2 separate regions of the Homo sapiens genome follow, and region 1 is linked to region 2. Evidence: fine-mapped QTL for protein levels in blood plasma. A gene starts in region 2. The other region holds a variant in brackets. All regions are shown on one strand. Distances are between the middles of the regions. Region 1 overlaps PTGFRN (prostaglandin F2 receptor inhibitor). Region 2 holds the start of PTGFRN (prostaglandin F2 receptor inhibitor).

Region 1 (2,908 bases), 41 kb before region 2:
TACATGACCTAAGACCACCTATATCAACAGAGTGCTTGTCAGGTTGTCTGTCTATCTTTTTTGGTCACTTCTCGGTTACCTTATATTGGTCCCAAGTTGTATGTGGTATGGTATCCGTACGCATATACATGCACATTACATATCTAGAGACAACCATGGAGTGTCAGGCCAGGCTCACTGGCTTCTGGACAGAGTCCAGCGGGGAAGTCTTTGAGAAGGGTCTGCTGCTATGCTCATGCCCTACCCGCTCCTGACAAGTGTCCAAGCAGCTGTAATGGTCTGAGTCATAGGCACAGGGAAGGAGGAGAAGTCTTAAGAGGAAGAAAAAAAAAAGAATGCAATTGTTTTTCATACTACTCGCTCTTTCGTTAGGTTTACTCAGGGGCAAATATCTCTGAATATCCTAGGAGTTGAACATTACTGCTTTCTTAGCAATTCTAGCTTTCCTATGCACATATTTTAACAAAATCCATGTGTGGGTACTGGTTTATTTACCCGTTCAGCTAATATTTATTGAGTGCTTATTACATGCAAAGCAGCAGGGAAGGTGCAGGTTCTGTATCTGTTAGCATCAGTCAGGAAAAGCACACTGATGACTTTCACAATGGTAGTAGCACTCCAAAGGAAAACAAATGACGGGATCCTTTGGATAGTAACTGAGCCTTTTCCACAATTTAGTCTCTTTATTTCTTTTCACTCTCTGGAGAACACAGCTACCAACAAATCCCTTCCAGTTAAAGGAGCCCATTCCTCCTAGAGCTCCGCTCCTGTTGTCTGACAGTCCCTGCATCTCCCCCCGGGTATGCCGGGATCAATGCACACGTACTTCAAAGAAGCCTCAAATTGGAGTGCAAGCAGCACTTTCAATTAAAAAAAAAAAAGTCCTCGAGTTGGGATTCAGAAGCTGAAGGGGGAGCGGGTACGGAGAGCCAGTGCTGGGATTTGACAGCACCATACAATACACTAAGGATCAGAGCTGTGAGACAAATTCAGCTCCAGAGATGAAAAATCTTCTTTTGGTGCTGACAACATCTGTTTTATTTTGAAGGTTGCTAAGGAGAGTTCTAGCTGGGCCAACATTGTTCCAGTTCAGTACTTCATAGTGACTCTCTTGCATGGGGTTCAGACGGCAGGAATAAAAAGCTTGCCAGATAAACCCCGCTTCTTTTACTTTTCAGATATCAAAGGATTACTTTGCTAACAGGGCTGATGAACACCCTGCCTCGTCTCCATCGGAATCGGATTGTCCCTTCCGCTTACTCTCATTGCTCTTCTTCTCCCTGCCCCCTCTGTCTCCACTGGCCAACTCCCCATCTTTGCCAAATAAAGGCTTACTGGGGAGGAAAAAAAAAAGGAGAGCGAATATGCCACTAACCCAAGAGAAGATTTCCATGCAGAGATAAGGAATAGATAAGTATGAGTTGGAGGTCATAGCAGAAGAATCAGACAAAGGAGGAAATGGTTTCCTGGCCTTTAAAGATCTGTTTTGCCTGCTAATAATCAGAGCAATGCCAAATGCCTTTATCAGGGCTCAGGCACTCACGGACAGTAGAGAGATCAAAAC[AG/G]GGGGGAATGTGATGAAAGGCCTGTCCCATCTCTGTAATAATGGAGGTGGGGAGCGAAGCTTTCCACACCCAGCTTGACCCCATCCCTCCTTTGATTACTTGCAATTACAAGACATAACAAAAATTAGGAAAAGTTAGTGTACATTTTGCCCAGAGGGCAAACATTTAGGGAAAAAAGAGGTAGGGGAAAAGGAGCTTAGTATAAAGTAAGAGGACATGCCAAAGATCTCCACATATACGGCAGGTTGTTATAAAATGGGTGGCAAGGTGCTCAACACTTGAGAGCTACTCTGCTCCTCCACTGGGGAAATTACACCTGGGGTGAGAGCGTCCACAAAACAAGCCTATAGAAGCAGGCGGGCCCTTTAGTTGTAAGTGGTATATACAGATATATTGTGGGATTCCAGGGCGTGACGTGAAAAAAAAAATGCTTTCTAATAACTGAAGGAATTATCTTTCTGCATTGGGCTTTGGAAAAGCACCAGCTCCTGCCAGGGAGCACCTAGGAGTCTAAGAGAAACAAAGGAAGAATGGCAGTGTTCTCCCTCCAACAAAGATTCATTTCAAAGAGCCATTCAGCAGTGCCCTGACCCTGCAAATGTCGACAACAAAAGGAAACTATATACTCTCAAATGAGGGTATTGAGACAACTGAGGCCACATTATCTAAACATTTCCCTTGTCTGCCAGATTCTATTTCATCCCCAGCTTGGGATCTATCTGGGCCAAAGTATGCATGAACCAATAGAAATAATGTCGAAGTCATGCAAAGCGCAGAGCCTCCTGAGATAACTCCTTCAGATAACTCCGAGGAGGGGTTAAGCTGAAGAGGTTAAGAGTCATTCTCCAAACCACTCACCTAGCCAGGTCACACCCACACCAGCTGGGGAAGACACGGCCTCTGCCACTTTGTGCCAGCTCCTGTTGTGTCCGGGTGCCCACAGGGACACGTGGCAGTAATAGTAGCCAGAGTTTTCTTTGCTAACATCCCGAACCAGTAAATGGTAGGAGCGTGCATCCACATGACTCAAAGCAACATGAGGCGAGCTGTGCACCAGGGAATCACGGTCAAGCCGCGCCAACACGCGGGAGCCAGGTAGGGTGCTGTCAGGCATCCTGCTGAAGGACCACGTCACCTCGGGCCGGACGTCATCGGCTCGGTCTGTTGTGATGTTACAGGTCAGGTCCAGTTCCTTTCCTTCAGCCACAGACACATTCTTGGGCACAGCTGCTCGCAGAACTTGAAAATTAAAAACAAATACATCTAGGTAATCTGATTATGTTTGCCCCTTCTATTCTCCACCCTCTTTAAAGCATCTCCTTTTAAGTTCTTATTTACAGCAT
Region 2 (2,908 bases):
ACACCGCACATCATGCGCTCTGTGAAAGACTCAGAGCCGCCTTCTCTAGGGGCTTGGAAGAGAACCCCAGGCCAGGTCACAGGAATCATCTTGTCCTGGTTGACACTGACAACAAGGATCCAAGAATATCAAAACATTTAAGAGTCGGCCCTGGGGTACCATGGTGGGCACTTAATAAACATATTTCCGTGGCTGGCTAGGATCACCATGTGGATCTACGTGAAGATGGTGTCTGTGTATGGAGTGAATGGAAAATGGAGAGGGAAAAAACCCACAAAAGATTCCTTGGGTGGGGGGAGGGCGCTGGGCCAAAACCTCACGGGGCACCCAGGGTTTCCGGAGGGTGGAAGACGAGGGGATAGTAAGGGAGGGAAAGTAACAGGTAGAAAAAGTTGGAGAAGCCAGGCTTTTAGGTCTTTGTGTATAAATACGCAGCTAGGCAGCTTCAAGAAAAGCTAAAAGAAAAGACTGAGGCAGAAGATCTAGCCACGACGAAAATGACGGCAGGACTCGCCCGCCGATTTCCATTGTAACGCTCCGGGCCACCCTGTGACCTTCGTGGAAGGAAGTTGGAGGATTCTCTCGCTTCCCTGGAAAGGCAACTCCGCGCGGGTTGGGTGAAGAGCGACCCGGCCGGCGGCGGCTATGGCGGGGCATATCAAAGGCTCACATTTCCGCTCTCGAGCCGAGGACCCGGGCCGGGACCGCAGCACCTTCCGGGCCGGGAGTTCAAGGTGAGCCGGGCTCCCGGCGGCCAACAGGTAGGGAGACCTGGGGGAAAGACGGCCCCGGGCCACTCCCCCCGGCACATGTTGGGGGCGAGGCTCGGCCTGGCGGAGCGGCCACTTGCACCCCGCGCGCGGGGCCCGAGCGGATTCGCGCCAGGCTCCGGGCGGCCCCGCGGCCGCTCCCCGCCGGGCCGAACAACCCGCGCACCCCGGCCGGGTTTCCCGGGAGCAGCCCGGGCACCCTCGGCGCCCCAGGCCGCGCGCTGCAGCCGCGCCCCGCCGAGCCCTCCAGGGCCTCGCCAGTCCCCGTGTGCCCCGCTGAGCCCCGCGCACACTCACCCAACGACAGGAGCGCCAGCAGCAGCGGCCTCGAGGCCAGGCGCCCCATGCTCGCCCGGCGGGAGCGACTCTCCCCCTCCTCCTCCTTCCCCGCCGCCTCTCCTCCTCCTCCTCTTCCAGCTCCGGCTGCTCCAGAGTCGGCGCTCCTCCGCCTGGGCCGCGCGCCTGCTCCGCTCTCCTCGCGAGCCGATAAATCCCAGCGCTGGGGCGTACGTGCGCCCCTGGCTCCGCTCGCTCCCTCCCGCCTCCTTCCCTCCCTCCTCCAGCCGGCCGGGCCCGGGAGCCGGCCCCGCCGATCCGAGTGTGCAGCCCCGACCGCTTCCCGAAAGCAGAAGGGAAGAACCGCAGCGCCCGCCCGCGCCTCCCATCCGGCGCTTTGCCAGCAACAAACACAAACTTTCCCAAGCCCCTCCCCGCTCCAGGTAACGGAGGAAGAGCCGGGGCCACCCGCTTAAAGGCGAGGAGGCGTCGGAGCCCACCCTGCCATCCCCTCTGGGCCCCCACCCCACGAGAAACTTTCCTCCGACCTTTAAAAGTTGGCCTGGGAAAGACTCGTCTGGAAATCCCATCGCTTTAGCCCTATCCCGGGACACCCCGCGTTCCATCACGCTGGAGTCACCCACGCGTGTCTAGTCTATCCTCAGCCAACTCCCCGCTCGTTCGGCCTCTCGTCCTGAGCTAAACACCCCACCAACCAGCCGCTTGGCCTATGCCAAAAATTATGCAGATAGGAGCGAAGGAGCTGAAAGGACTTTTAAAGGCCACGGATTCCAACCTCTACCATACAGAGGCCTTAAGTGTTTCGGTGAGGTGCCCAAGGATTCACAGGGAAGGGGCAAAATCAGAACCCCGCTCTCCTGACTCTGCCCACTCCCCGGTGGCTAGGGTGGGCCTGTCTCCTTCCTTACCCAGCTCCCTCCCTCTCCTCGGCGCCTGTGGCACTGATTAGAACAGCACCCCACAAAGACACCCATTTAAAAAACAAACAAAACCCAAGTGTATTAATAGCTATAGTACTTCATATAGAATGTACTCTTAAGACTTAATATTTATTGCTCTAAGTGGACACCACTGATTGCCAATAAAGACTCATTTTTCCCCCTACAATAGAGTTTTGTGCTTTTGATTTGAATACAAAAGGCCCGACTTGGTTGGGAGAAATGGAGCATTCCTTGCTTGAAACTTAGCAAGCATGATTCAAACACGCAAGGAGCAGCACTGGTGCCCACTGCCCGTCACTGGGCTTTCATTCACATGCAAAACGGATCGCAGATGCTTATGCGGAAACTGCCCACACTGGGGAAGAACACTGCTTTTACTCTCATGCATCCGTCTTTCAACCAACAAATGTTTCTTATTTCCCCACTATCAAATGTGTGATTAGCCAGGTATCTTTGGAAAGAGACTTAAAAATTCATTCCTGGTGGTGCAACGTTATTGTACTTAATGCCACTGAATGGTACACTTAGAAATGTTTAAAATTGCCAGGCCTGGTAACTGGTACTTGTAATGCTAGCTACTCAGAAGGCTGAGGTTGGGGGGGCAGGGGGAGGCGGGGGGCAGGGATGGTGTTGCTTGAGGCCAGGAGTTTTTATTTGTTTTGTCTTCTTTCTTTCTTTCATTTTTGAGACAGGGTCTCAAAATGAGGATCTGTCACCCAGGCCGGAGTGCAGTGGTGCGATCAGGGATCACTGCTGCCTTGACCTCCCAGGCTCAAGCAATCCTCCCACCTCCACCTCTCAAGTAGCTGGAACCACAGATGTGTGCCACCACACTCTCGCTAATTGTTTTTATTTTTTGTAGACACTGGAGTCTCCCTATGTTGGCCAGGCGGGTCTCGA

Evidence for each region. PIP is the chance, under the fine-mapping model, that this variant and not a neighbour inherited with it causes the effect. Sun 2018 read protein levels with aptamers (SomaScan).
Region 1: its variant is fine-mapped to the plasma level of the PTGFRN protein (Sun 2018, PIP 0.95).

What each region holds. Positions count from the first base shown.
Region 1 is chr1:116,949,088-116,951,995 of GRCh38, reverse strand. It overlaps PTGFRN (prostaglandin F2 receptor inhibitor), which reads right to left. Exons shown (of 9, transcript NM_020440.4): 4 at 2,424-2,804. Among named protein-coding and RNA genes, the nearest start is that of PTGFRN, 41 kb to the right of the region's middle. The variant AG/G (reference allele first, on the strand shown) is at 1,565.
Region 2 is chr1:116,908,412-116,911,319 of GRCh38, reverse strand. It overlaps PTGFRN (prostaglandin F2 receptor inhibitor), which reads right to left and starts at 1,404. Exons shown (of 9, transcript NM_020440.4): 1 at 1,068-1,404. The coding sequence starts at 1,116.